4 linked regions of the Homo sapiens genome follow. The protein of the gene in region 2 interacts with the protein of the main gene of each other region in a pairwise test. Each region holds a gene or a part of one and is shown on either strand. Other genes may lie near its edges.

What was found.
Region 1: the proteins of CNOT1 (region 2) and TNRC6C interact in binary tests that used the Homo sapiens proteins (3 or more experiments, as listed by UniProt).
Region 3: the proteins of CNOT1 (region 2) and PATL1 interact in binary tests that used the Homo sapiens proteins (3 or more experiments, as listed by UniProt).
Region 4: the proteins of CNOT1 (region 2) and CNOT6 interact in binary tests that used the Homo sapiens proteins (3 or more experiments, as listed by UniProt).

What each region holds. Positions count from the first base shown.
Region 1 is NC_000017.11:78,044,937-78,053,295, reverse strand, and holds part of TNRC6C (trinucleotide repeat-containing gene 6C protein), read right to left. Parts: intron 4,452-8,359; coding exon 1,848-4,451; coding exon of another isoform or gene 1,839-1,847; intron 1-1,838. UniProt on the Homo sapiens protein: Plays a role in RNA-mediated gene silencing by micro-RNAs (miRNAs). Required for miRNA-dependent translational repression of complementary mRNAs by argonaute family proteins.
Region 2 is NC_000016.10:58,619,388-58,627,746, forward strand, and holds part of CNOT1 (CCR4-NOT transcription complex subunit 1), read right to left. Parts: intron 1-8,359.
Region 3 is NC_000011.10:59,659,038-59,667,396, reverse strand, and holds part of PATL1 (protein PAT1 homolog 1), read left to right. Parts: intron 1-432; coding exon 433-544; intron 545-7,927; coding exon 7,928-8,145; intron 8,146-8,359. UniProt on the Homo sapiens protein: RNA-binding protein involved in deadenylation-dependent decapping of mRNAs, leading to the degradation of mRNAs. Acts as a scaffold protein that connects deadenylation and decapping machinery.
Region 4 is NC_000005.10:180,573,593-180,579,431, reverse strand, and holds the end of CNOT6 (CCR4-NOT transcription complex subunit 6), read right to left. Parts: intron 5,445-5,839; coding exon 5,232-5,444; 3' UTR 1,074-5,231; downstream 1-1,073. UniProt on the Homo sapiens protein: Poly(A) nuclease with 3'-5' RNase activity.

The sequences.
Region 1 (8,359 bases), on a different chromosome or scaffold from region 2:
CCCCCAAGTACTTTATAAAATGTAAGGGCCTAGAAATATTAGTCATATATTAGTAAACAATTGGAATCACAAATTCAAGTACTCCAAGGAACCAGTCAGTTAACGTAAACAGGCCCAGCGTAAGAACAGCAGCGCAAGCTTGATGATGCTCAGTGGCTACTGATCAAAAGCCTCAGTGTTGGGAACCGTCAGGGGTCGGGGGGCAACGTGACATGGTATGGAGAAAATGCACAGGCCCTTATGAAGGCAAGTGGCTCTGACTGACTGCTGCCATGTGAATCCAATGTCAGACTTTTCAGGTTTCCAAAGGAAGCCAGAAATCTGGAATTTAATATAAAACATTTGCATTAAAAAAATGCCAATTCACAGAAAAAATGTGGGCCAAAAAGGCACATTTGTGGGACTAGGTGCAGCCCACGGACCACTGATTTTTGACCTCTGGTTTAGTGACACTGATGCGTTAGCTGGAGGCTAAAACTGTCTTGAGGATCCATAAAGGATTCCTGATGTGGCAGCCTCAGAGAGGTACACAAGTGAACCACCAAGAAGTCTACGAGGAGGCTGGAGGGCCCAGCTGGTGGGCCAGGGGAGGTCCTGTAGGGCAGTCATAATTGAATTAATGCAGCAGGCAGGACATTCTCCTGTTGAACGCTTATGACAAAAACCAAAAAGGTGCCCAAATGCCCAGGCTGCCCTACACAAGATGGTGATTCCCCAACTCCAGTGGCCCCCGCATGCAGACCTTCTGGGCTTACTGTTTCCTCCCTGCACCATCACTGCCCAACACTACGTATATACTTTAATTCGTGTGTTGTTTGCCACCCTCACTAGATCTAGACCCCTCCATGGCAGGGTTTTGACTGTTTTGCTTCCTGCAGTTTCCCCAGCTACTAGAGTACAGCCTAGTACATGGCAGGTCCCAATAAATTCACTGTGTATGGTGATCTCTGGGCCCTGACATTGCCCAGCAACCCTCCAGGGGCCCCAGTCAAGTCAGTTCTCTGTTCCTGTCCTCTACATGGGCTAATGCATGCTCCCTCTCTACTCGTGCTGCTGCTCCTAGCCAGCCCTCCTCCACTCTGGGCTAGTATTCACACTCCCAGAGAGAAAAGAACCCCAGAAGGTGGCCTTGGCCCTCTGGCCATGACAGCCTGGCCCACCTGTGCAGCGCTCTTTCCTGCTCCTTGCTTCACGAGATGGATGAAGTGCCCTTGTCCTGCTGGACACAGGGATCTCTTCCCTCTTCATTCATTCTCATCTCCACTTGTTCCTTTCTAACAGCTCTGAAACATGCTCACGACTTTGCCACCTTAAAATCTCTCTACTCTGGACCTTGCCCCTCTGGCTGAGAACTGGTCTTCCGTATCTGGGACCTTTTATTGTCCTCACTGGACACTTGGAGCTCTGTGCCTCCTGCTGTGCTCATGGGCATGTCAGTGAACTGACACAGTCATCTGCCAACTTGCCCAAGTTCTGAACCATGTCTATCCTATCTTCTTTGCTCCTGTATCCAAATGGTTACGAAATCTTGGAATCATGCACTGTCATTGCTTTCAAATCCATCATCTCCACCCCAGGCCACCACCGCCACCACCAAAACATTCGCTTGATGTTCTACTGAGTGTGCTTAATATATTTTTTTCTTGAATAGAAAACCACCAGAGGATCCTACTTTGCTCTCACTGGATAATCTTTAGATACAATATTGCACGGTGATAGGGAACTTAAATTATTTTAATGCTATTTGCTATAAAAAACACTACTCGGAGTATTCATGAATATATAATGAGAATAAGCTTTTTTTTTTTTTTTTTTACTTGTAAAGAAACATGAAATACCTTTCCTACCTGGACCAAGCAACGGTGATCGATTCAGCTGAGTACCGGCCTGGTGCGGGGGCGGCGTCTCGACCCTGTGTGTGGTGTTGCTCGTGGTAGTGGTGGTGGTGGTGGTGGTATTGGTCGTGGTACTGCTCTGGATGACCGGGTTGTTTCTATCCCACATGTTTACAGTTTTATTGTTATAGTTGCTTGGGTCCCCCCAAGCTGAGGTACCATCATCAATTTCCATTTTGCGGCGAATGGACGGTGGAGAGGGTTCTTCCCAGCCAGTTGCTTCACTGCTGTCCTTCTGTTTGACCGGTACCGGCCCCCCGATCCACCCTGTTCCTGTCTGTTTCACAGAAGCAGCTCCTCCCCAGTTACTCACATTGTTGTCTTGGGGTTTGCTAGCCCAGTTCTGTTGGGGGCCAGGTTTTAAAGTCTCCCCCCAGTTTGTACCTGGATTGGCCTTTGTATTTGTGCTGTTGCCCCAGCCACTGTTCCCAGATCTCGTGGTGTCATTCCAACCAGACCCTGACCTATTACTGTCAGCATCCCATCCAGATCCATTTTTTTTCCCATCCCCCAAGTGTCCAAGGACAGACGATGAATCTGCCCAATCTCCCCCTCCTGCACTCCAGGCTGGATTTGATCTTTGTCCATCTCCCCAGTGTTGGGATTTGGGCTTTGGAGGCTCACCCCAGGTGGGTGACTTGTCCTCCTGATTTGCGGCCCCACTCCAAGCATGGCCACTCTTGGCAGCAGCAGCAGTACTAACAGCAGTAGAGCTTATCGAGTCCCCCCAAACCCCCGGGCCACTTGGCGCTTTGTTGTTGCTGTCTCCCCAACCTGTGTTTGCTGGCACAGCGGCAGGTGGCGCGTTGACCCACCCAGATACTGAAGAGGTATTTGTACTGTTCATGATGGACCCATCGTTCTTCCCCCCTGAGTTTGAAGCCTGAGTAGCTGCACAACCCCAGGCCTCTGTCCCATTGTCATTTTTCCTTTCAGACCTAGGGGATTCTTCAAATTCCCAGGCAGTGTTTTGCTTTACAGGAGTCTGTCCCCAACCAGTATTAGACAGAACTCTTGGGTCAAGATCATTCCTTGGCAACTGGATGTGCCCTTGGTCTATAATCCCTTTATCTCGCCTTCGGCCTTCTCCCGTTCCTTCCCTCCCAGTGCTTCCTTCATTGTGGTTGCCAGAACCATCACTACTTCCTTCACTTGCTGTAGTTCCAGAAGATGCCGCTTTGGCCCAGGAGTTCATGTGTTCACCACCAGGCTGTACGGTAGGGTTCTGGCTGGTGACACTAGGACTCTCCCACCCTGTTGATCCTTTCCCATTGATGTCACTGTTGGAATGCTGGTTTGGGGGCTTTCCCCATTCCCCATTCACACCGTTAGAGGTGCTTCGGCTGGGGTGGCCCCAAGCTCCTGAATGGATATTACCAACGCCATTGTTGCCACTGCCCCTTCCCCAGGCGAGTATTCCAGGACCAGCAGGAGGTCCTGAATCCCAAGCATTTCCTCCACTTCCTTCCTTTTGCACAGCACTGCTGGATCCATTTTGTTTAGCACTTAATGCTGAGTTCACAGTGTCTCCATTCCCCTGACTGAACCCAGAATTGCTATTTCCTGTGGCAGGGTTACCTGGGGACAGTCCCCACACAGAATTGCTTATTCCTTCAGCACTGCCCCCACTGACTTGAGAAACTGATGATCCATTAGCACCAGGAAGGCCTTGCAGGTGGGGCGGGATGATGGCCCCCATACCAACAGCCATGCCCCAGTTTGGCAGTCCATTTGTCTGCATTGCATTGATAGGGTTGGGTGAAGAGTTCATGGGGTTAGTGTTATTTGGTCCATCAGTGTTAAGGTTCTGAGGTTGTGCGCTGAAAGACACATTCTGAGAAGTGGACGTTTGTGGTTCTGTGCTCTCTTGTGGCAGCAAGTTTCCCCAAGCACCTAAAGTGCCTGTTGGGTTCCCGTTCTGGTTGCCCATATTTTGACCTATGGCACTGACTGGACTGCAAATACTGGAAGGGTTGCCTGTCGCCACGGTTCCTTCATGTCCAAGTACAGGCCAGGCAGCTGGGTTGGCATTAGGATTAAGGTTAAGATTAATGCCAGCATTGGAGTTGGAAGCACCCCAGCAATTCTGACTTCTCCCATCTCCAATCATAGTGTCCATTTTTCCATCCCCACCACTGACAGAGCAGTGAGCCAGGCCAGAGCTGGAGCCTGTGGCTACACCCCACACTCTGGCCGCACTTCCATTACTGTTCGCTCCCCCTGCTCCAAGGGCACTCTGATTAGAAGGGCTTTGGACGAGTGCGCCATTGGTGCCATTATTGCCATTTGTCTTCTTGGTATGTCCAGTGAAGTTGCCCTGGGCACTCCCTGTAGCCATGCTACTGTTCTCTGAGCCACAGTTGGAGGCAGAGTCAGTGTCTGTAGTACATTCTGAGGCAGATTCAGTCTCTGTTCCTGTGATGGAAGGCCACGCCTCCTTGTCAGTCCTATCTATTATCACTTTATCCCAGCTGCAGTTGGCTTCGCTTCTGTAAGTAGGCTGCTGTCCCCAGTGGGAATTTTCATAATGATCTGCCAATCCACTATGACTGAGATCTGAAAAAGATGAAACAAAATTCAAAATTAGATTTTCTACTCATTTGTCAATGAATCAACTGTTAACTAGTCTTTGGGGAAGCTCTTTATTTCAAGTCTTCAAATCTGAATGACAAACACTAAAAAAATGACTTAAAGAAAAAAGCTATTTGTCTTCTTAATAGATCCCATTTTAAAGAGCGTTAATGTTTTTAAAATTATATCAATTCTTACCACTACACTGTACTATTATTCCCCCTGGAGAATACTCACAATGCACGTTAGCACATCAGCATCTCTGAAAGCATCTGTAGTAAAGGCAGCTTTGAAAGATAAGTGACTTTGCAACTCCTATAAATACAGAGACTGAGAAACACTGGCAATGACAGTAAGTTCACGTAGAGTTTTGAATAAAACTTGTAGTTCTCTTTAAGACCTCTAATTAGGTTACAGTATTATATAGAGGCGAAACATGGCTTTCAGTAGAAAAAAATTGTAAATTGCATTGCAGAATCATAACAGAACCAATATTTGGGGTGGGGGAAGTGGTGACGGAAGGAAAGAGAGAAAAGACATATGAGACAATGCTATCTTATGTTATCAAAAATACTAAGGATTAGAAATGTTTAATTAGCTGTATACTACTTTATCTGATCTTATCTGCAATTTGGTTTATCACTGTCTCCTGCACATTCATAATAAAAAAAAAAAATCTGTAGCTCAAGGACATCACTAAAAGAAGAAAAAGAAGGAAGAAGAATCTCAGCCCCACAAGTGCTATCTTTTTGGATCTCTAAAGATTCTCTCAATCCTTGTTTTCTATTTCTTTAGAGCCTTTTCTTTGGAGATCCCTAGAATAACTTTATATGCCATCTTCTTATAGTATTTAACTCTTCGGGTCCTTTTAAAGAATCCCCTGTTTGGATCTACATTTTATTTCCTATGACTTTAACAATTATTTGAGTATTTCCAACATTGCAGTCAAACTTATATTTCGATCAACTTTTTGGCAGACTTTATTCCAAGTATGTATCACTAAAAAATAAAGTAAAAGAAATGTTAAAAAAATAATTTAACCCAAACATACAACAAACTCACATATGTGATTTAGAAATCCTTGGTGAGTTTCTCTAAATACTACAATATACAAATAAACTGCAATAAAATATTTTCTTCTCTTTTAGATCCTTTTAATTATGTTCTCTTCAAATTTATTTTAACAAGAAAAATCGTATGGACAATTAAAACATGAATTTCCCACATAAATTCTCTTTTAAAGTTTGATGGAGCTAAAGGAAAAAAAGGAAGTGTGCAAAAAAAATTAGCATTAGAAAGACCATACTAAAGCTAATATCAACCTAAAAGAGATTTTTATTGCCTGATTTAAGAGTAATGTAATGATTTTAGAATTATGCTCTAGGTGATTTCAAAGTAGGTACGTAATTCCAGGTGAAAACTACAAAGGAAAAATGAAGACAGGCAACAGAAAACTTTAAATGTTGAAACTGCTATAAAATGACTAGGTTCTTTTCACTGCCAATTATTAGGGGTTGGCTCTATAACCCTGGTTTATGACAATTTGGTTTTGCACATACTCTAAAAACTATCTAATATAATAACTAACTAAAGAGATAAATAAGCCATTCCTCATTTAACACAGAAAATAAGACCAAGTTAACACACAGAGATTATGGCTTGTTGCCAGCAAATATTACCACATTTCATTTTACCATCAGTTTGGGTTCCCTCATGGACAGGTTGTGCCATAAGGCAGGCTGCCTCTTGACTAAGACAGCACTCACTGCAACCCACACCGAGAAAGCAGGGGGTTAACAACCTGGCTGACCAATGCATTCTTTTCCATATGTGAGGTGCCATTCGAATACACAGTATTATTGGTTCCATTCCACAACAGTCACACTGTAAAATGATCTGCCCTTTGTTAATGGTCTACTTTGAGGACTTGAGGATTGCTCAGCCCCCAATTTGACAGGTTCATACTCAATTATATGACACGTTTGAAAGAAGGATAGCATTATAAGCTGGTGGCTAATAAATGCTGTTGGACAACTGTCTAGCCACATGAAATGAAAGTAGATCCCTTATATCGTATACATGCCAGATAAAGTAAAGAGCGAATTAGGAAAAGCAAAACTTCTTAAAGCTTATTAAGGAAGCAAAGGAGACCATCTCTATGACCTTGGACATTGTATCATCTTGTAGAAGACATGAAATACGTAAGACATAAACAGGTGATAAATTTGACTATGCTAATATTAAAAACATCTATATAACAAAAGATATCATATAATGAAAGCTAAAAAAACAAGCCACAGGCAGGGAGAAGATACAACAGATAATGTATGGTTATCAGCTTAAAGAATTCCCGGCCAGGCGCAGTGGCTCTCGCCTGTAATCCCAGCACTTTGGGAGGCCGAGGCAGGTGGATCACCTGAGGTCAGGAGTTCGAGACCAGCCTGGCCAACATGGTGAAACCTCGTCTCTACTTACACAAAAATTAGCCGGGTGTGGTGGTGCACGCCTGTGGTTCCAGCTACTTGGGAGTTGAGGCAGGAGTATCACTCGAACCCAAGAGGTGGAGGTTGCAGTGAGCCGAGACTGTGCCACTGCACTCCAGCCTGGGCAACACAGTGAGACTCCATCTCAAAAAAAAAAAAAAGAATCCTAAAAATCGGTAAGAAAGAGGCCAACAACCCAACCAGAAATGGGAAAAGGATAGGAACAGGCAATTTAGAAAAGAGAAAACTCATAAGCCATTAACATATGAAACAATAATCAACCTCATTAATAATCAAGAAATGCACTTTAATGTCACACTGTAGATGAAAGTGACACAACACTACAATTTTTGAATTGTGGTTCCCTCTGGGGGTGGGATGGGGACCAGAATGGGGTTAGAGGATGATACCTATAACATTTTTAAAATAGAGAGCCCTGAAGCAAATATGGCATGATATTATGTTAAATCTCTATTGTGAACACAGTTATATTATTTTCTATATACTTTCTTCTATTGAAAAAATATTTTCAAAATTTTTAATTTTTATGTTTAAATGTGATACAAATCAGGCGGCAGAGCAGTCTGATTAAAAACCCATCTGATCCCTGAATTAAGTGTCTAATTTCTGAAGGTGAGTTCCTTGAGGGCGTGGCAAATATCTTTTTAGTTTTCCATTCAAAATGCTTGCCACATATAGGCAAACAATATATGCTTCCTGGGCAAACAAAACCATACATGCATAGTGCTACAATCTGAGTTCTAGCTGAAGTCACCAATCAGCTGCACTTGTACAGCCCAGACTGCTTTGAACAAGCACGTCCATCTTCTGAGGGAACCACTTCCACTACAATGACGCCGCCTACTCAGACCTTCCCGGGCTTTGAGGTGTAGATCTCAACTATGCCACAGCAAAATAACCACCAATGGGGCAATACTGGCAGGAAGCAAAGTCACTTCTACAAAGGCCAATATCCATCCCCAATAGCTGAAGTGCCCTAAGGATGGCCATATAGGATGCCATAAGGATGAAGTCATGCCTGTTGAGTTTACATATTGGGTATTTCTAGAACCTTTTCCATTAAAACAAGAAATAAAACTTCCCTCTGACTGCCCCTGTTCCAAGCACCCTCATGTCTTGACTGGATTACTGTAAATAACTTTCCAACAGGTCTCTTCCCATGCCCCCTACTGCCCCACCCACAATAATGTGCTCAACACTGCATACAGTGCTCTTTTCCAAATGAATGCCCAGTGGGTCACCAATGGTTGGGTCTCTTTTGAGGCCATTCATATCATTCTTTCTCCTGCTCTGTGCTCCAGACAGTTCCTTGAGGTGCCATCTGTGTCCTGCCCTCCCAAAGACAGGGCTGTTAAAGGTGCCATCCCCTGCCTGGGCTCAATGTCTATT
Region 2 (8,359 bases):
TAAAAGAGCATCTTTTGGTCACACTAGAGTTTTGCATTTTCTTTCTTTTTTTTTTTTTGAGACAGCGTCTCGCTCTGTCACCCAGGCTGAAGTGCAGTGGCGCGATCTCAGCTCACTGCAACCTCCGCCTCCCAGGTTCAAGCAATTCTCCTGCCTCAGCCTCCCAAGTAGCTGGGACTAGCCGCCCGCCACCACACCTGGCTAATTTTTGTATTTTTAGTAGAGACGGGGTTTCACCATATTGACCAGGCTGGTCTTGAACTCCTGACTTTGTGATCTGCCCACCTCGGCCTCCCAAAGTGCTGGGATTACAGGCGTGAGCCACCGCGCGTAGCCAAGTTTTGCATTTTCATAGTGAGGAAATGAAAAATTCAAATCTTGTTTCTAGTCGTCCAAAAAACTGCTGGGAAAAAAACCTTATTTGCTTTGGTCACAACTAAGAAAACTCTATCCAAATAAAAGGTTGGGGGTAAAGAAAGATCTCCCTAATTAATTCAAGAAATTGCCAAGATGTAAATAGTTTAACTCTGTAGATTACTAGAGATAGTCATGATATTCTAAAATCCAATGCACAAATGAAACTAAAATCCTGACCTACATAATGAACCACCACCGATAGATCTTTTCCTCTGAAATGTTACTTGCTCATTCAAGCAGTATGAAAAAAAGAAAAACCAGAGTATCGATTTCCAAGAATGCTATATTCTATCAATTTACCCAACTGTAATAAATGAAGCACTATTCAATTACAGTTCAACTGTATATATGCACTGGGGAAAGAGACTCCTTACTCACTATGGGACAGAAAACTTAAAAGGCATTGTAGGGTGCACTTAAGTGAAACTGGCCAAGGATGGCAAAAAATCAATTTTGCTTAAGGAAATTAGGTATTTATAGACAGTACACCTGAGTTTGGACTAGAATGATAAAGTTTTGGTAGAGATGACATTCCAGATGTAAAAAGACGAAGAGGCTGGGTGCGGTGGCTCAAACCTGTAATCCCAACACTTTGGGAGGCCGAGGTGGGCAGATCACCTGAGGTCAGGGGTTCAGGACCAGCCTGGCCAACATGAGGAAACCCCATCTCTACTAAAAATGCAAAAATTAGCCGGGCGTGGTGTGGCAGGCACCTGTAATCCCAGCTACTCGGCGGGGATAAGGCAGGAGAATCGCTTGAACCCGGAAGGAGGTGGTTGTATTGCAGTGAGCCAAGCTCGCGACACTACATTCCAGCCTGGGTGACACAGCGAAGACTCTGTCTCATTTAAAAAAAAAAAAAAAAAAAAAAAAGAGGACAAAGATATATTTGGGTACCACTGCTTAACAGTCTTTTGACTATAATACAACACAGTAGTACCACAGGGAAGGAGGAATCAACACTTATAATTCCAGATGAAGGTATTAGAATGACTTCTGAACAAAGAAAGGATATTTCCAAAGCAATGATTTAAGTGGCATTTTGGCAGAAATATAAAAAATTAACTGCAGTCCTAGAATCTTTTACAATCACAATATCCACATATTATTTGTGAAATAAACCCAAAAACCAATGATAAAGAAACTATAATGGAGATTAGTTAGAAAGTTATTTCAAAAAAGACAAGAGCCTGAAACTAGACAAAAAGATAACTTTTTTTTTTTCTTTTTTTTGAGACAGAGTCTGTCACCCAGGCTGGAGTGCAATGATCACAGCCCACTGCAGCCTCGACCTCCCCAGGCTCAGGTGATCCTCCCACCTCAAGTTTTGTATTTTTAGCAGAGATGGGGTTTCATCATATTGCCCAGGGTGGTCTGAAACTCCTCGGCTTAAGTGATTTGTACACCTCTGCCTCCCAAAAGTGTTAGGATTGCAGGCGTGAGCCACTGCGCTGGCCCAGCTAACTATTCTTTCTTTTTCTTTTTTGAGACAGAGTTTTGCTCTTGTTGCCTAGGCTGGAGTGCAATGGTGCAATCTCGGCTCACCGCAACCTCCACCTCCCAGGGTCCAGCGATTCTCCTGCCTCAGCCTCCCAAGTAGCTGAGATTACAGGCACGCGCCACCACGCCCAACTAATTTTGTATTTTCAGTGGATACGGGGTTTCTCCATGTTGGTCAAGCTGGTCTCAAACTCCCGACCTCAGGTGATCCGCCCGCCTCGGCCTCCCAAAGTGCTAGGATTACAGGCATGAGCCACCACGCCTGGCAACTATTCTTGTTAGCAAAACCAGGCCTTATAGTTTGTCCAAATCCACAGAATATACACCACCATGGCCGGGCATGGTGGCTCACACCTGTAATCCCAGCACTTTGGGAGGCCGAGGCGGGCAGATCACGAGGTCAGGAGATCGAGACCATCCTGGCTAACACGGTGAAACCCCGTCTCTACCAAAAAATACAAAAAACAAATTAGCCGGGTGCCTGTAGTCCCAGCTATTCAGGAGGCTGAGGCAGGAGAATGGCATGAACCCGGGAGGCGGAGCTTGCAGTGAGCCGACATCGCACCACTGCACTCCAGCCTGGGCGACGGAAAGAGACTCCGTCTCAAAAAAAAAAAAAAAAAAAAAAAAGAAGATACACCACCAAGAGTGAATTCTAATGTAAACCAGAGAATTTGGATGATGATGATCTATCAGCGTAGATTCATCAATTGTAAGAAATGTACAGGCTGGGCTCGGTGGCTCACACCTGTAATCCCAGCACTTTGGGAGGCCGAGGCGGGTGGATCACGAGGTCAGGAGATCGAGACCATCCTGGCTAACACGGTGAAACCCCGTCTCTACTAAAAAACTATAAAAAATTAGCCAGGCGTGGTGGTGGGCGCCTGTAGTCCCAGTTACTAGGGATGCTGAGGCAGGAGAATGGCGTGAACCCGGGTAGCACAGCTTGCAGTGAGCCGAGATGGCGCCACTGCACTCCAGCCTGGGTGACAGAGCGAGACTGTATCTCAAAAAATGTACCACTCTAGTGGGGGGGGGGGGGGGGGCGGGCGTGGACAATGGGCAAGGCAAAGCATGTATTGGGGCAGGAGATAATACAGGAAACCTCTGTACTTTCTCATCAATTTTACTGTGATCCCAAAACTGCTCTAAAAAATAAAATCAATTAAGAAAAAAACGCAAAACCTAGAAGCTATAAATCTAAGGGAACAAACGTTTAATTATCTGACTCGGAAACTGCTGAGTTCTGAATATAAAGCTTAAGAATATTATAGGCTCACGCCTATAATCCCAACACTTTGGGAGGCTGAGGTGGGTGGATCACCTGAGGTCAGGAGTTTGAGACCAGCCTGGCGAACATGGTGAAACCCTGTCTCTACTAAAAATACAAAAATTAGCCAGATGTGGTGGTGGGCACCTATAATCCCACCTACTCGGGAGGCTGAGGCAGGATCGTCTCTTGAAACCTGGAGGCAGAGGTTGCAGTGAGCTGAGATCGCACCACTGCACTCTAACCCAGGCGCCAAGAGTGAAACTCTTGACCCAAAAAAAAAAAAAAGAAAGAAAGAAAAAGAAAAAAGAATGTTAGATAGCGTCTTTGAAAATCCTTTTGGCTGGGTGCAGTGGCTCACGCCTGAAATCCCAGCACTTAGGGAGGCCAAGGCAGGCAGATCACCTGAGGTCAGGAGTTCGAGACCAGCCTGACCAATATGGCAAAACCCCGTCTCTACTAAAAATACAAAAATTAGCCAAGCGTGGTGGCAGGCGCCTGTAATCCCAGCTACTCAGGAGGCTGAGGCAGGAGAATCGCTTGAACCCAGGAAGGAGAGGTTGCAGTGAGCCGATATCGCGCTCCAGCCTGGGGGATACAGCGAGACTCTGCCTCCAAAAAAAAAAAGAAAAGAAAATACTTCCATCCCACTTTTATATTTCAAATAATTACTTCAACATTACTGTAATATTTATTGTGAGATATACATTTGGTCTTCATCCCATTTCCTGGCATACAACTTCTAAGATCCTTAGAATGGTAAGTTTCTTTTTGTATGCTGAGTTGACTGATAGCTTGGCAACTTCTAGGTAGTTTCTGCATGGGTGCTGGTCACCTGAAAGATCAAGGCAAGATGAGAGGATTAGGACTTTTAGCCCCACCTCCTCCAAACTCCAGGGAGGGAAAAGGTGCTAAGGGTTAAGGTGACCACCAAAGGTCAATGATTTAACCAACTGTGCCTCTGTAATGAAGCCTCCATAAAAGCCCATAAATGACTGGGTTCAGAGAGCTTCCAGATAGCTGAGGCACAGTGTAGCCAGGGGAGGGCATGGAAGCTCCGCGGCCCTTACTTCTCCTACGCACCTCCTCATCCATATCCTTTATAATAAACTCTTGAACCTAAGTGTTGGCCGGGTACAGTGGCTCATGCCTGTCTGTAATCCCAGCACTTTGGGAGGCTGAGGTGGGTCGATCGCTTGAAGTCAAGAATTCGAGACCAGCCTGACCAACATGATGAAACCCCATCTCTACCAAAAATATAAAAAATTAGCCAGGTGTGGTGGCGCATGCCTATAATCCCAGCTACTTGGGAGGCCGAGGCAGAAGAATCGCTTGAACCAGAGCGATAGAGGTTGCAGCAAGCCTAGATCGTGCCACTGCACTCCAGCCTGGGTGACAGAGCCAAGACTCCGGCTCCAAAAAAAAAAAACCCTAAGTATTTCCGAGAGTTCTACATAAGCCACTCTAGCAAGTTAACTGAACAAAAGAAGGGGGTATTAGGAACTCAATTTATAGTCAGTTGGTCAGAAACACAGGTAAAACCACCTGGGACTTGAGATTAGCATTGGAAGTGGGGGACTGTCTATGGGACTTGAGCTTTCAACCTGTGGGATCTGATGCTATCTTCAGGTACACCGTGTCAGAATAATACTGAATTAGAGGATACCCATGTGGTGTCCACTGCTGAATAGCTTGCTTGATGCGCAGGGGAAAACCCCACACATCTGGTGGTGTGAGAATATACTGGAAGAAAGTTTATGTTCTCAGAATCAACAAAAAATTATCCTACATGGTTGCAACGTATTCAACATTTCAGGAATTTCCCTGTAACAACTGTAACACAGTTAAGCAACAGGTATGCTGGAGGTTAGTTAATGCTGTGTTTTCCAGAATTAAAGATATAAATGCATTTCTCAAATATATACACTACATTCCTTTAAATCACTGTGGGTGCGACGGCTTACGCCTATAATCCCAGCACTTTGGGAGGCTGAGATGAGTGGATCACAAGGTCAGGAGTTCGAGACCAGCCTGACCAACATGGTGAACCAGATCTCTACTAAAAAGACAAAAATTACCCAGCCGTGGTGGCACGCGCCTGTAATCCCAGCTACTCGGGAGGCTGAGGGAGGAGAATCACTTGAACCTGGGAGGCGGACGTTGCAGTGAGCCGAGATCACACCACTGCTCTCAAGCCTGGGCAACAGAGCAAGACTCCATCTTAAAAAACAAACAAACAAACGAAAAAACTCAACAAATGGCTTCATATTAAGTCTACACCTCTAATTACTGCCTTCTCAAACTACGCTTTCCAGTGAACAATGCTTTATTTGGTTTGCTACATTCTTGCAAATTTGAGTGAAAAGTACACTTAAAAAAAAAAAGTATCATAGGCCAGTATGGTGGCTCACATCTGTAATCACGGCACTCTGGGAGGTCTTGGTGGACAGATCGCTTGAGCCCAGGAGTTCCAGACCAGCCTGGGAAACACAGTGAAACCTCACCTCTACCAAAAAAATACAAAAATTAGGCCAGGCGCAGTGGCTCACACCTGTAATCCCAGAACTTTGGGAAGCTGAGGCAGGTAGATCACTTGAGGTCAGGAGTTCAAGACCAGATGGCCAACATGGTAAAACCCCATCTCTACTAAAAATACAGGCCTGGGCAGTGGCTCACGCCTGTAATCACAGCACTTTGGGAGGCCGAGGCAGGTGGATCACCTGAGGTCAGGAGTTCGAGACCAGCCTGACTAACGTGGTGAAACCCTGTCTCTACTAAATACAAAAAATTAGCCGGGCATGGCGGCGTGCGCCTGTAATCCCAGCTATTCAGGAGGCTGAGGCAGGAGAATCACTTGAACCCAGGAGCCGGAGGTTGCACTGAGCAGAGATCACACTATTGCACTCCAGCCTGGGCAACAAGAGCAAAACCCTGTTTTAAAAAAACATATATATATAAAATTAGCCAGGCATGATGGCGCGCACCTGTAATCCCAGCTACTTGGGAAGCTGAGGCAGGAGAATCACTTGAACCCGGGAGGCAGAAGTTGCAGCAAGCCAAGATCATACCACTGCACTCCAGCCTGAGGGAGAAGAGCAAAACTCTCTCTCAAAAAAAAAAGAAAAAAAACAATTTTTGACACGTGTGGTTAGCATGCACCTGTAGTCCCAGCTACTCAGGGGCTGAGGTGAGAGACTGACCTGAGACCAGAATATCAAGGCTGCAGTGAGCAGGGATTGTGCCGCTGCACTCCAGCCTAGGCATTGAAGTGAAACCCTGTCTCAAAAAAAAAAAAAAAAAAAACTATTGTATACACTGGGGGGCAGAAGGTGTTGAGCCCCTTTTAACTTTCAAAGATTCATCTTTAAAATTGTGAGCAAACAGAAAAGGAATTGCTAGATTCTTCTATATATAGAGTCACTCAATGGGATGCCATTTTGAAACTTCACAGCAGGAAGTTTTAGTTTGGTCAGAGGGTCATTAAAGAAATGCCTCAGTTAATATATATGACTTGAAAGTCTTTTCTTTTATAAAAGTATATACCAAGTTCAGGCCGGGTGCTATGGCTCACGCCTGTAATCCCAGCACTTCGGGAGACTGAGGCAGGCAGATCACCTGAGGTCAGGAATTCGAGACCAGCCTGGCCAATACGTTGAAACCTCTTCTCTACTAAAAATACAAAAACTAGCTGGCTGTGGTGGCAGGCACCTGTAATCCAGCTACTCAGAAGGCTGAGGCAGAAGAATCGCTTGAACCTGCGAGGCAGGGGTTGCAGTGAGCCAAGATTCCACCATTGCACTCCAGCCTGGGCAACAGAGCGAGACTGCGTCTCAAAAAAAAAAAAAAAAAAAAAAAAAGATATACCAAGTTCATAAAATACAGCATTTCAAAATGGCAGACTACTAGGCTGGGCACGGTCACTCATGCCTGTAATCCCAGCACTTTGGGAGGCCGACGCGGGTGGATCACGAGGTCAAGAGTTCGAGACCAGCCTGACCAACATAGTGAAACCCCGTCTCTACCAAAAATACAAAAATTAGCTGGGTGCAGTGGTGCGCGCCTGTAATCCCAGCTACTTGGGAGGCTGGGGCAGGAGAATCGCTTGAACCCAGGAGGCGGAGGTTGTAGTGAGCTGAGATCGCACCACTGCATTCCAGCCTGGGCAACAGGGTGAGACTCCGTCTCAAAAAAAAAAAGGCAGACTACTATTTTTGTTAATGTGGGACAAAATACTCATAACAAATATTTTGCAAAATTTTTTTTTAATTTAATTTTCTTTTTTGTAAAGACAGGGTCTCACCATGTTGCCCAGGCTGGTCTCTAACTCCTAGTCTCAAGCATCCTCCTCCCTCATCCTCCCAAAAAGCTAGGATACAGGCTTGAGCCACTTGCCTGGGCCAAAAAAATTAGTCCCAAAATATGACAGCACTCAATTAGAATTATTGTGGACAAATTCCATTCTCTGGTATTGGGTACCAAAGACGTGTTTGTTATTACACAGAAAGAAATAATCAAGTTCATAAATTCAAACTGGTTAAAAAGAAAGCTTCTCGGCTGGGCACCGTGGCTCACGTCTGTAATCCCAGCACTTTGGGAGGGTGAGGCGGGTGGATCATGAAGTTAAGAGTTCGAGACCATCCTGGCCAACATGGTGAAACCCTGTCTCTATTAAAATACAAAAATTAGCTGGGTGTGGTGGCGGGCACCTGTAGTCCCAGCTACTCGAGGGGCTGAGGCAGAATTGCTTGAACCCTGGAGGCAAAGGTTGCAGTGAACCGAGATTGTGTGCTGCTGCACTCCAGCCTGGTGACAGAGCGAGACTCCATCTCAAAAAAAAAAAAAAAAAAAAAGTTTCTCATAACCAGATCAGAATCTATCCTAAAACATACTCAGAAAAAGTAACATGCAAGGTAATTTGAAATCAGACTTTAAAGCATGTTTTGAAAAGATGGCAAGCATTTCCATTTGTTTTCATAGCTTTTTTTAATGACTTGACTCCAAATAAGAAGGATGTCTTATTATTTAGCTTGACAACATCTATGTTAAAGAGACTAGGATCTAAACCCCGAAGAGAAATTCAGAAACTAGAAAAAAAGAAAATGAACCCGGGGTGTTAAGCTGGGAACCAAAAAGAGCACATTTCAATTCTTTTCCACCGTAATGCCACAAAAC
Region 3 (8,359 bases), on a different chromosome or scaffold from region 2:
AAAGATGACATGAATATAATGAGAAAGATGAGAATTTTGCTGGAAAAGATACATAAAGATACAAGAAAATAAAGGGTTCATTATTAATTGTCATCAGTATTCCAACCAGTGATGTAAGGAAAGTTGTGGGCTTAATTTCTTGGTTGCATGAGGAACTGCTGTTCGTGGATTCTTGATAAAATAGAGAAATGGAATGCTGTGAGGTGGGGCAAGAATTAAATGAAATAAGGATTAGGAAATAGAAAGTGAAAGAAAGATGATGAAATCTTCCAGTGTCAGGGAAATTGGGAAGTAGAAAAAAAATGCCATCTTTACAAAAAGTCATAATGAAGCAATTATGTTCATTGAGAAGGTAAGATGAACATTTTTAGAACATTTTTAAAATGAGGGTGTGAATTTCATGAATAACTAATGTCTTTTCTTTTTTTTTAGTCTTTGGAGGATTGTCCTCTGGATGAAGATGAAGATGCATTTCAGGGACTGGGAGAAGAAGATGAAGAGATTGATCAATTCAATGATGATACATTTGGGTCAGGTGCAGTTGGTAAGTGACATCTTTCGCTTATAATATCATCTTAGCCTCCTGCTCTTTTCAAGTGCTGTCTTTTAGAAGTGCTTTATCTTATTAGGGGTAACCTTATTCACTAACTTGGCAAGATATTCTTCTATTCCTCATCTTAGAATAGTTCATTCTTCACTGGAAACAGCACCTATCCTGCTCCTCTGGGTCTCTTTTTGCCTTACCTATAAAATCAGGTATTCTGTAAGCCTTGCCCCTTCCAGCTATATGATCGATGACTACAGGTTGCCCCTATGAGGGATTCAAATGTTTAGAGAAGTAAACATTTAAGAGAGATTTAAATTAATCCTAGATGAGAGGAATTTTTATTTGTATAACATATAACTTATGGAAAACTAGTGTACTAGTAGAAAATTCAGATTCTAGGATGTGGGTATATGTGTTTCAAAATTTAGTCTATCACTAGTATATAACTTTGCAACTTATAGTATCTTCAAAATATAAAGCTTTTTATAGCAAGAATTTTGGGGGTCAAGAAAGGACTCATAAGTTAGAAAAGTATGCACAGATGAAATTTTGTCCATCCCTGGGTATAGATACATATTATTTATTTATTTATTTATTCTTTTTCGAGATGAAGTCTTGCTCTGTCACCCAGGCTGGAGTGCAGTGGCACGATCTTGGCTCACTGCAACCTCCGCCTCCTGAGTTCAAACAGTTCTCCTGCCTCAGGCTCCCGAGTAGCCGGGATTACAGGTGCCCGCCACCACACCGAGCTAACCAGGCTGGTCTCAAACTCCTGACCTCGTGATCCGCCCATCTCGGCCTCCCAAAGTGCTGGGATTACAGGCCTGAGCCACCGCGCCCAGCCTATAGATACATATTTTAAGAGTTGGAAAAAGTTTAAAAACTGAAGAGCCAAACTAAGGTTACAGGCCACGGGGTTATAAATGCCAAGATGGAAAATTTAGGAAGTAAGCTTATATGATAAAGTTTGAGAACACATGTTACTTAGAACAGGTGTAGAACAAGTGGAGTAATAAATTGAAATTTAAATTTTTAAACTGTATACATACACATATATTTGTTTTGAGACAGAGTCTTGCTCTGTCACCTAGACTGGAGTGCAGTAGCATGATCTCGGCTCACTGCAGCTTCTGCCTCCCCAGTTCAAGCAGTTCTCCTGTCTCAGCCTCCCAAGTAGCTGAGAACACAAGCGCCCGGCTAATTTTTGTATTTTTAGTAGAGACAGGGTTTCTCCATGTTGGCCAGGGTGGTCATGAACTCCTGACCTCAAGTGATCCCTCCTCAGCCTCCCAAAGTGCTGGGATTACAGGTGCAAGCCACCACGCCTGGCCAAAACTGTATATTTTTAAGCAAATGAATAGGTAAGAGTCAATGCAGATATGTTTGCTTAGACTTGGTGCTGGAAAGCAGCAATAACAGCGTTTATGTTCAAATGTATAAATGTGTGTGATTCTTTTGTAGTCGCAACACTTCTGTCTGTGCAACAAATACTCCAAGTTAAGTCATAAGGAAAAAGAGAAAATTTAGCAATAGTCAGTAATCCCAAGATGTTGAATATCAAAAACAAATAAGAGGCCTTAAAGTATTATAATGGTCACTGGTTTTGCAGTGACCTAATACATTTATTAAAGCTTAGACTGACTTGAATAAACTGGCAAAAATGAAGGTGTTTTAATATTGTCAGTCATTTGTAAAATTCATTAGAGAACTAAAACTTTGTTATGATTAGAAGCAGCAAGAAAAGTGTTGAAAGTAGAAGCTAGACTCATGATGGAAAGGAATCAAAGACCTTTTGGATTATAGGCATGGGTTAGGAGATGAGATTGTCCAGGAGGATAACATGATCCAAGATGCTATTATCTCTCTCCATGGAGATCACAGGCAAAGAGATGTAGAGTGGAATTACAAAAGCAGGAAACTGATGTGAATTGCAAATTATATTTGGAAGATAGTTTAGTGATAATCAGTAGGACACAATAAGCTATTTGTGGTGGTTCAAGCCCACAGCTCTCAGCACTTTGGGAGGTCAAGGCAGGAGGATCACTTGAGGCCAGGAGTTCAAGACCATCCTCGGCAACATAGTGAGACTCTTTCTCCACAAAATTTTTTTTGAAAAATAGCCAGGCATGATGGTATGTACCACTTAGGAGGTTGAGGCTGAGGCTGGAGGATCCCTTGAGCCCAGGAGTTCAGGGCTGCATCAGCTATGATGGTGCCACTGCATTCCAGCCTGGGTAACAGAGCGAGACCTTGTCTCTAAAAAGTTAATTAAATACTTTAAAAATAGAATACCATAGAAGCTACCAACATGTGCTTGTTTCTAGAACTCTTTTTCTATTAAAATACTGTACTGAATGTTAACCATTTTTTCAACAAATTCTTCAGTATTAAAATGAATTAGCTAGAATTGATTTATAGACATTAAAATGAGGCAGCATTGTACCATGTTCTCAGTTTTCAACCTGGACAGAAGAGGAAGAGTCATACCTTCTCATTGACTTCCAGAGTGCTATGGACAGTCTTTTTTTCCTGAGTTTCTATTTTTTCTCATAAGATGGGAATAATATTGCCTTAAAAGGATGTTAGAGTGTCCGGAACGGTATTTTATATGATGGGAAAGAAGAAAAGTGTACACGTGCTGAAAAAGCCATTAGGTTTACACAGTAAAAGAACAGGTAGTACAAAGTTAAGGCAATTAAATAGCATATGATTAGCCCACTTTGTACCTTAGGGCCAAAGGGTGATTAGAAAGGATTTTTTGGCCAAGAAAGTTTATAATAATATAGAGAAAAGATTTCCAAAGGTGAGCCCTTTCCCTTGAGAGTGTAATGTACTGGAATTGTAAAGTGAAGATCTTAATTCCTCATAACAGCTTGGTGTAAATACTATAAAAAGAAAATTGTTTTCCAAGTCAACCTGTGACTTCTTTGATACTCCTCTGCAGGTTGATATAAAGCTGGTATAGAGAGTTTAAATCAAGAGGTGAAATGTCAGACCTTTGACATTTGTTTTGATTTTATGATTTTTAATTCATATAGCGGGCATCTGGAATAATACCTGCTATTACAGTAGACATTTTAGGTCACTGGCTACAAATGGTCACCTTTCCTTAAGAAACTAGTCTTCTGCATGAAAAAATGTTTGCATCATCTTAGAGCAATAAATAGTGTTGCAGTAATCCCAACTCCTTCTCTAAAAATAAAAGCTTACACTTAACATGGTGCTTATTATGTGCTAGGCACCATTCTAAATATTTTACATATATTGTTAATCCTCATAGCAGCCTTGTGAGATAGGTACTATTATTATCCTCATTTTAACAAATGAGGAAGAGTGACGGGTTAAGTAACTATAGACACAATTACTGTAAACTACTAGTTATGTTTAATAGTTTTGGGGGAGTCTTTGGAAATCTCCTGCCTCCACTTGGAAGGAATCACCCTCCTTCCTACCTCCCTTTTATTGATAGCTACTATAGTCTTTAGAGATTGAGATTGCCTTAAAATTAAATCACTTCTTCCTTTTTATTTTGTTTTCATTCAAAACTCCCTGAGACAGGCTTCAGGGGTTATTACAAGTATAAGTTTATAGAAGCAGCCAGGAATTCAGTAACCCGTATCAGAGTATAGGTTAGTTCGTTATTACGGATAATCTCTTTCCCTTCATTTGTCTGTTATTCTTTTGCCTACCTTTTATCATTTTGACCAATAATGGACTCAGGTCAAGCACTGGCATATCTAAGTAACTATATTTTTAGGTCATTTGAAAAAGATACAGGGTGAAATATTGTTTTATAGTAAGGGCACAATATCTCTAAAATACTACTTCAGATAATTTTTTACAAGAGTAAGAAAAATCTAAAATGATGATGATGGTATTTTATGGCATAGATTCCTCTGGTTACATGTTTGAAAATGTAACAATCAATTCACCAGAGATCTATTCTCACAGAATATGGCGACTTAACCAATATTTTTAAAATATTATTATTAAGGGGAAATAGATTATCCATATTTGATAGGATTTGGTAAAGTTAGCAAGCATGAATACTGGAAGTAGTGATAGAAAAGCATGCAAATTAGAACTCTACTGCATTAGAACAAATCCACTAACAAATTAACTTCTTAAATTTGGGAAGTAAATGTTTTTACAAATCCCTCAATTCAGGATGATAGATTCCCACTCTTGTGGCATTGCTAAGTTAGTAAAGTTGCAAAAAACAATTTATCCTGTCCCAGCTTACTGTTCCTTACCAAGGATGACACAAATATGAATGTCACATTTGGTTTTTAATTACATTATTCTTTAAATATTTTCTTTCATATGACTAGTCATTTAAATTAACACTGTAATTTTCATTTAAAGTGGATTTTTCCATTTTTTGGAGCACATCAGGATAGGCTTATCAGAGACCATCATCATAAAATGGCTACCTTAAATTCTTTTCTGTAAGATGACAGTTTAGAGGAAGAGTGCCACCTGACTAGTCACTCAGGTAAGAGGAAACTATTGGGTGGGAAAGAAAATACCACATAATTATAAAGAAGACCCATGTCCCGGAGGCTTAAGTAAGGATATTTTTATAGCTTTTGCCCACAGTCTTTATCCCAGTGATGGCACAGTGATCCACAACTTAAGGAATCCCTTACCACAACTAATACATAAATCAACCAAACTAGGCAGTGGGTCCTATGATACCAAAATTATATATTTGAAAGTCCCACTTCCCTCACTCTTTGGATCACTAGTATTATGTGATACATCGTTGTATGATTAAAAATTACATATATATAGCAAATTTTAACTGTTAATGTAATCTGATTCTAAAAGGAAATTAGTTTATTTAAATAGTCACATAAAATGCTAAGATATGTATGATGTTATTACAGTATTAATTATTATATTGGAAAATTGTAAATAATCCAAATGTTTACCAGTAGGGGATAAATTACATTATAGTTTAGCAATAAAATGCAATCTTATGTAGGTATTAAAAAGAATGAGTTACTATCAGTAGTTATGCCTGTGTGCATGCATGAAAAGATGTCCAAGACATATTGCTTAAATAAAAAGAAACAAGTTAACTTTATAAACTTAACACAGCTTAAAACTGTTTAAAACTTAACACAGCTGTGGAATTGTGGGGAACTTTCACTTAAGTTACATGTGTTTATGGTGTTTGAATTTTTTAAACATGTATTTTCTCTGAAAGCAGAAAAAAGAAAGTCTCTGTTTCTGTGTTGGTTATAACCTGTTATCCCTGTCTGTTGAATTTTATAAAACATATAAAGGATGTAACTAAAAAAAGAATACCATATAACATATACAAAATAATACTTTTTGTGGGTTAGAAAGTAATGCATATAGAGATGAGGTAAAGGAAGAAATAAAATGAAAGGATTATTTAGGAGTAGCTCCATTGAGGAGGAGGAAGAAGTTTCACATTTGAATACCTGAAAAGAAAGGCCAGAGGCAGTGGCTCAAGCCTGTGATCCCAGCTCTTTGGAAGGCTGTTGCAGGTGGATTGCTTGAGCCCAGGAGCTTAAGACCAGTCTGGGCAACATGGGGAAACCCCGACTCTACAAAAAATATAAAAATTAGCCTGGTGTGGTGGTACAAACCTGTAGTTCCAGTTACTTGGGAGGCTGAGGTTGGGGGAATCACCTGAGCCCGGGAGGTTGAGACTGCAGTGAGCCAGATCACGCCATTGCACTCCAACCTGGACGACAGTGAGACCCTGTCTCAAAAAATAAAAATAAAAATACTGAATGGAGCAAAACTGTGAGTACAGCTTTCATGATGGAAGCAGAATGGAATAAGATTGGAGAGAACTGGAGTGAGATGCGTTGGAAGTAAGGTCTAGCTCCAGAGCAGCTGATAGAGGGTTCTGAAGATTGTAATCTGTGCTGTAATGGGATTCCAAAACAGAAAAAATGATGCCAACATACCAAATGCAGAAACAACCTTAATGTCAGTGCTACAGACTTTATAGTAGTGTGCAGTAATAGCAGACATAGTTAAGATAAAAGAGGAAATGCCCCTTCCTCTTCCCTAGCCTGTTTTCAGCACAGCAGCCAGAGTGATTCTTTTAAAAGTTAAGCCAAATGAAAATTTCCATTGGCTTCCCATTTCAATCATAGTGGCCCAGAATGAGCTCCCTCCTCATGACTTCTTGACCTCATTTTCTTCTACTCTCCCCACCCTGCTCATTCCATTCCAGACACAGTCCTCCTTGCCGTTTCTCAAAACCATCAATCTCTCACCTTAAGGCCTTTCTTTATACTGACTGTCCCTCTGCCTGGAACCCTCTTCTCCCAGATATCCAAATTGCTAACCCTCTTACTCTTTAGAATCTTTGCTCAAATGTCATCTTCTCAATGAGGCCTACCTCTGACCATCTATTTAAATTTTCAATCTGCCTTTCTTCCTTTATATTCCTACAGCAATTTCATCTTCTGGTATAGTATCTAATCATTATGCTTATTGTCTATCATCTCTCTCTTTCCTGCTTGCATGAAAGTGTTATGAAGGCAGAATCTCTGTGTCTTTTTGTACACCAATGTATCCCATGCGTCTAAAACAGGGCTTGTCACATAATAGATGCTTACCAAATATTAATTGAATGGAACGAATGGATTCAAAAGCATGTAAAGAATGTGGCACTTAAAATCTAAGAGGAAGTTGTATGCTAATGCTATGAGTTTTAACTTCCCTTTAAAGTTTTTGCTTGAAATGTCATAGAATCTCAAAACCAACTAGTAGTACTATACATATCTATCACCAATTTGGGAAACAGTTTCAGAATATAGTTTGGACATTATTGATAATGTTTTAAGCTATTAATTCACATGTTTGAATTTTATTCCTGGTATAATGTTATTTGCTTTTACTTATAAAAAGCATGCTTTACGTGTCCCTTAGTTTAAACCTTATTTCCTGTTTCTAAGTGTAAACTTAACTTTCTACCTATCTTCTGGAATTATTCATTTGCTTAGCAGAAGAATTGTGTAGGCCGGGCGTGGTGGCTCATGCTTGTAATCCCAGCACTTTGGGAGGCCGAGATGGGTGGATCATTTGAGGTCGGGAGTTTGAGACCAGCCTGGCCAGCATGGTGAAACCCCACCTCTACTAAAAATACAAAAATTAGCCAGGTGTGGTGGTGGGCGCCTGTAGTCCCAGCTACTCCAGCTACTTGGGAGGCTGACGCAGAGAATTGCTTGAACCCGGGAGGTGGAGGTTGCGGTGAGCCGAGATCACGCCACTGCACTGCAGCCTGGGCGACAGAGTGAGACTCTGTCTAAAAAAAAAAAAACAATAATTGTGTAAAACTTTTTTGTACCACTATGAACTATTTCTTACATGAACTGTGTCATCTTATAGATGATGATTGGCAGGAAGCACATGAGCGCCTGGCTGAATTGGAAGAAAAGCTACCAGTGGCAGTTAATGAACAAACAGGCAATGGAGAGAGAGATGAAATGGACTTGTTGGGTGACCATGAGGAGAATCTGGCAGAAAGGCTCAGTAAGATGGTGATTGAAAATGAACTAGAAGATCCAGCTATTATGAGGGCAGTGCAGACCAGGCCAGTTTTACAAGTAAGTAAGTTACTGTGATTTGAGAACTATAGCAGACTAAAAATTAAAGTGAAGTATTGAACTTTGCCATTTTATTTTATCTATTATAATGAGAGATTTACATATACCATAGAAAATTGATAATATATTTCCTGATGATAGAAGTTCTAGAGATAAACTTGGGGAATAATGTATATTCTGGAGCCCTATAATTTCGTATTCTAAAGCAGCTTGA
Region 4 (5,839 bases), on a different chromosome or scaffold from region 2:
TCCTCACTGAAACCTCCACCTCCTGGGCTCAAGCAATTCTCCCACCTCAGCCTCTTAAGTAGCTGGGACCACAGGCGTCTCACCACGCCCAGCTAATTGTTCTATGTTTTATAGAGATGGGGTTTCGCCATGATGCGCAGTCTGGTCTTGAACTCCTGGCCTCAAGTGATCCGCCCACCTCGGCCTCCCAAAACGAGATTACAGGCGTGAGCCACTGTGCCCAGCCTCAGACATACCACTTTTTATACTGTATTTTCACTTTTTTTTTTTTTTTTGAGACGGAGTCTCGCTCTGTCGCCCAGGCTGGAGTGCAACGGTGCGATCTTGGCTCACTGAAAGCTCCGCCTCCAGGTTTCACACCATTCTCCTGCCTCAGCCTCCTGAGTAGCTGGGTCTACAGGTGCCTGCCACCACACCCGGCTAATTTTTTGTATTTTCAGTAGAGACGGGGTTTCACCGTGTTAGCCAGGATGGTCTTGATCTCCTGACCTCGTGATCCACCTGCCTCAGCCTCCCAAAGTGCTGGGACTACAGGTGTGAGCCACCGCACCCAGCCTACTCTGTCTTTTCCATGTTTAGATACACAAATATTTACCATTGTCTTACAACTGCTTACAGTGTTCAATACAGTAACATGCTGCACAGGTTTCTAGCCTTGGAGCAACAGGCTAAGCACACAGCCGAGATGTGTAATAGGCTACACCATTTAGTTTATGTAAATACAATCTGATGTTCACACAATGGCAAAATCACCTAAGGATGCATTTCTCAGCATACATCCCCCTAATGTGCATCACTGTATTAAGGATTAAGTAGAACATGCCTACTTTAAAAACTGGAGATCAAAGGAAATATTATCTAAACTGTCCAGATTTTGCATGGTTTTTCCCACATGTACATAAAAATGTACGTCTGCTATGGAAGTCGTTCTAAAAGCAAAGGAACTCATGTTGTTTTCTCAATTGTAAGGTGACATCGGAAGACTTAGGAAGTCACACGTTTTTAGAGTTTACACATACAACAAAATACAGGCAACAAGACATTTAATGAATTATTATAACCCCAACACAATGTTTGCTACTGTATTTAAAAGCATTTATTTAAAATATGTCAACCTCCTTCCAAAAGACGGAAGACACATGAGCCCATTCCTTATATCATGAGGTATAAGGTAACAACAACGAAAATCCTAAATGCAAAAGGACCATCAGTTGCCTAAATATAAAATTGAACTTTGGCAAAGATATGAGTGTTATACAGAATAACAGCCAATAAAGAAATACATTAGTTTACACCATTTCCCCATATCATGGCCCCGTCCCCCTGCACTCTTCCCTTTGGAAGGCTGAGTTACAACCCTGTCCCAGAAGATTCAGAATTTTAAATACGTGGTCTGCTGATCAACATTTATTTTTCCTCAAACCTCAGTACTACAGCTATACAAACTACACTTCTAAAATATTTGAAACAGATACTGAATTTATTGGTTGGCTATGAGTAGGAAAATACATCGGTAAAGAAAAAAGACCCTGTATATAAATATAATGCTAGCTAATTACAATTTGACCAAGAAGGTTCCACTGAACAGAACAGTAAAAGCCCTTGTTACTGCCAGTCCGTATGGTTTATTCAGTTCCCATCACCCTCATCAAAGAGCTGTCTGGGCGGATGTGACATTCTTTGAGCTTATAGTGCAGATAATGTGCTGGGTTTTGTTACATGAATGGTAAACAAGAGTTAGTCCAGTGCATCACACAATATAATGTACTGTGAATAAAGACTAGATACTTTTAGACACTACTTCAACATACCAGTTATTAAAATGTATGTAACCAAAAAGAAGAGCAAAGTGAACATCTTAAAATACTGTTTACGAATGGTGAAGAACACCTGCTGAAGGAGTTCTTGGAATTATCTGCAACATCTGTACTGGACATTCTGAGAGCTTCACTGAAAAAACGGTGCTGTCATTGTTTTGCCTAGCTTGGCTTTAGTCCTTATATATGACCCCAAAACCTTACAAGTCAGTATGGAAACTAGTTCCATAAATTTAAATAGTACAAAGTGAAACTCTAAAACTTGAATATTATTATTGAGAACCTGAATCTCGAAAGAGCTTTGAAATTTTAATTTAAACATTTAGAAGTGCATTCCATCCAATTTAATAATGTCCCTAAGTTTGAAAGTGCTAATAATCCCAAGTAAGTTTTCCTGGTTGTCACTAAATCATATTAAACACACACACACACACACACACACACACACACATTTCTGGAGATGTTCTCTGCCTATCTTTGGGACTATGAAAGTTGCACTCAACAATTCATTTCTACAACTTTAGCTTAAATTATGCCATAAGTTAACTTGACGAACAATATTGAAACTCTCAAAGCATAAATAATGACCACTAATATGGTAAAGCTGTACTTCAGGAGATTGGCGACAAGGATTTGGGTGCCTTCAAACTTCTGGTCTTTAAAACAGAAAACATGCCCTAAACTTTTTGTAAGACATTTCTAAAATGGATTTATCCAGCAAAAATACTGAAATGACATTATGGCAACACATTAAATATATTTGTTACAGAATTTTTGAAAAAAAATATACACCGTGAAAACATACTAGTTTTTATTGCATTTTAGGGATTATAGATTATTGAAAATTATTTAGGACACGGAAAATATCTAAAACATGAAACCTTTCTTAACAAAAGCATCATAGTCTATTTTGGTGTGACTGTTCATTACCTACAGACCCCAAATAGTTCTTCCTCTTTTGAAGGTTACACTTGTAAATCTACACTCTTGGTTCAATTTATCACTGTCCAAATAAGGTGGAGAAGCTGTTCAAACTGATCCACAGAATGCAGTATGCCTGGAAGAGGCAAAACAAGTATTTTCAAGACATAACAGGCCATTACATCTTAATATGCTGCCCCAAATTCAAATATATTGTAGACAATAACAAATACAGATGAAGACATTTTGTGTAAAGCTCAAACCTTTAGCATCTAACAAGTGCACTCTAGTTCCAGCATCTATGAAAAGATGACATCCTCCATTAACAAATACAACATGAGTAAGTGCTCCTCCTCTCCCGCTTCCATAAAGCTCTCTGGACCTGTGATTACATAATGCAGATCGTAGGAAAAGCTGCTTCCTCAGTCTCATTAGTCCAACCAGCTCCAGCTCACCTTCACTGGAAATTGTCATGATGCACATTACCAACACAGTGTTCAGGAAAAATGAGTAAACATACCTTTTATTCACACTTTACAAAAAAAAACCAATAACAAAACCCCATAAAAAGTTATGCACTGGTTCTACATCAATACCAGCTTTCCAATGTACTGATTATAAACTGGATGTGTTTGGTGTCAGCACAACTTAAACAAAAAGCAAAAAACAAAACCAAAACATCACAATGAAATCCTAGAAAAAACAAAAAACAAAAAACCCTCAAAGGAAAAAACAGGTCCAAGACCAAGATTCAACATCAAAACCTTTTGGAGAATTTTCTAAAAGGAGAAAAAAAAAAAACATAAGAATCATTTCCAAAATGACTCATTTTCTGTATAAAAATTGTTAGTAAGAGTGAGTATTTTTTTTCCTAATGCTCACATGGCGTCCTTTTGCTCCCCTGCCTGCAGTTGAAACAAAAGCAGTTTGACCAAGCTCCCTCTGCATTCATTTGACTTTTGAGAGAAGAATGAATAAATGAGAGCAGACCATGTACATGTTCACTTTGCAAAGTTAAAGCTGGTTTTCATCTCTAAATGGCACTATGGGCAAAATAGACGGTATGATGTAATTTTTATCTTGCTTGACATACTAAAATGACTTAGTCATTTTAAAAATGATCTGAAGAATTGTCTTAGGGACCTGTTTTGAAAATACATCTAATTCATACTGCTTCATAAATGGAAAATTACTTCTTCTTAAAAAAGGAATGATTAAAACAACAACAACAACAACAACAAAAAGACTAAGGAAAAGACACTGACGACAAAAAGAATTCACATGATAGTAGTATTCTGGGTGACAAGCAGCACACTGCAATGACACCGAGAAGCAGTGCTTGGATCTGGTGAGCAAAGATCCAGGGACTCACCCTATAACATGTTCCAAAATGTGATATTCAATGCTTCACAATGGGAAAAAGCCACAGCTCATACAAAAGCATTTTCATAAAATTCTCACAAATGTTAAACAGTATTTTAAAAATATAAAAGAGGATGCACAGATTTTCTCTGCATGCACAGGCAGTGCTTGGTGAGAACAAATTTAGGCAGGCACAGTGGAGATAGGACAGGAAGTGTCTCAAAAAGAGTTAAGAAGCTGGACCTAAGCAGCTGTAGGTTTTTAACTTTAAAAAGTTAAAGATTTAAAAATATCAGAATGTACATATATCAACCATTACATTCAGTCCATAAATGTCTACAGATCATCACTGTTCAGCTTATCTGTCCTAGTAGATAGTTTTCATAAAAATTCATGAATAAGTTGCCTCTGGTCTGAAAACATCCTAAGGTTGAAGCAGATTTATATGTAAAGAACCATGTTCTCAATTTAAAAAGAAAGTAGTACAAAAGGGCTAACAAAACCCTAAGAGTGCAAATCATGAGCAGAGAAAGTCTGTTGCAGCTTCTTTTACAAGCTGGCCTTTATAACACATGAAACAGGTTTAAAAAAAAATTTAGCCTCAGTTTACAATACAATCATTTCCAAATGATTTTAGTACAAAATTTCATAAATCAGGTCTTCTGTGGATCATATACAATCATAAAGGCTAAATTCAGATTCTGTACTTTACAAACAAGTCTGAAAAAGGAGGGAGTAAAGTATGGAAGAATGATCTCTGGATGTTGCTACTGGCCTCAAAAAAGCAGTGCTACAGATTTCTGTGTGAAGAGAATACGCTGTTCACACATTTTCCTATTTCCAGGCATGAAAATATTCTATTGGGTAGAAGAAATAGGAAAATCTCTTATGACAAATGAAAGACAGGTGCAAACACACCAATCCCTGTCTAGCAGTATAAAGCATATTGGGCTCAGAATTTGTCTGTTGCTAGCACCTGGCTTTCATACTATATCCTTATCAAATAATCAGATTGAAAGTCCAAATCATTCTTAAGCAAGCAAAAATCCTCAGTGGCCATACCTCACTCCCCTATGTTCAGATTTTCACAAGTTTACAAGTGAATCAAGGCTGTCCTCTGAAGGTGCTTGACTACCTCCTGCCAGGAAGGTGGATGCCGTTGACTTGGGGCAGGAAAGGCAGTAAGAGCTCCAGTTGTGCAAAAAGTGAGAAGTGGTCAGAGGGGATGAGGGGGTGCGGGCAGCCACTGATGTTATTCTCAACCAGCCAGTGGTGGTCCAGAGGGCCCAGGATGCCTAAGGTGTTCAGCTGAGGTTTAGAATAGAAAATGTAGTCTATTATACCCTGAAAAACAACAGAAAAAAAGATAAGCACCGTATAAGACAACACTAAAATCCTCAGTGCTTTCAAGACATGCCTTTATGTCATGTTTGGTGAACAGAACAGAACAAGTGAAACTTACTAGCTTGTAGGATGAGGTCTGTACTACATACACCAAATGGTCCCCGTGCAAAATGTCAAATCTAGCAGAATGAAGCATTCTTCTTATCTGGATCTTTAACAAGACCTAAAAGGCCTTTCAGGATGCAGCCTCTGCTTCTCTTTCCTAGCCTAATTTGTGCCACTTTCCCTGCTTCCACACTAGCCTTTGGAATGAGAAAGGGGTGAGGATGTGAGGGGACCTATAGGTACCAAGTTCTTTCCTGCCCCAGGACGGACGGACGGACGGACACACACAC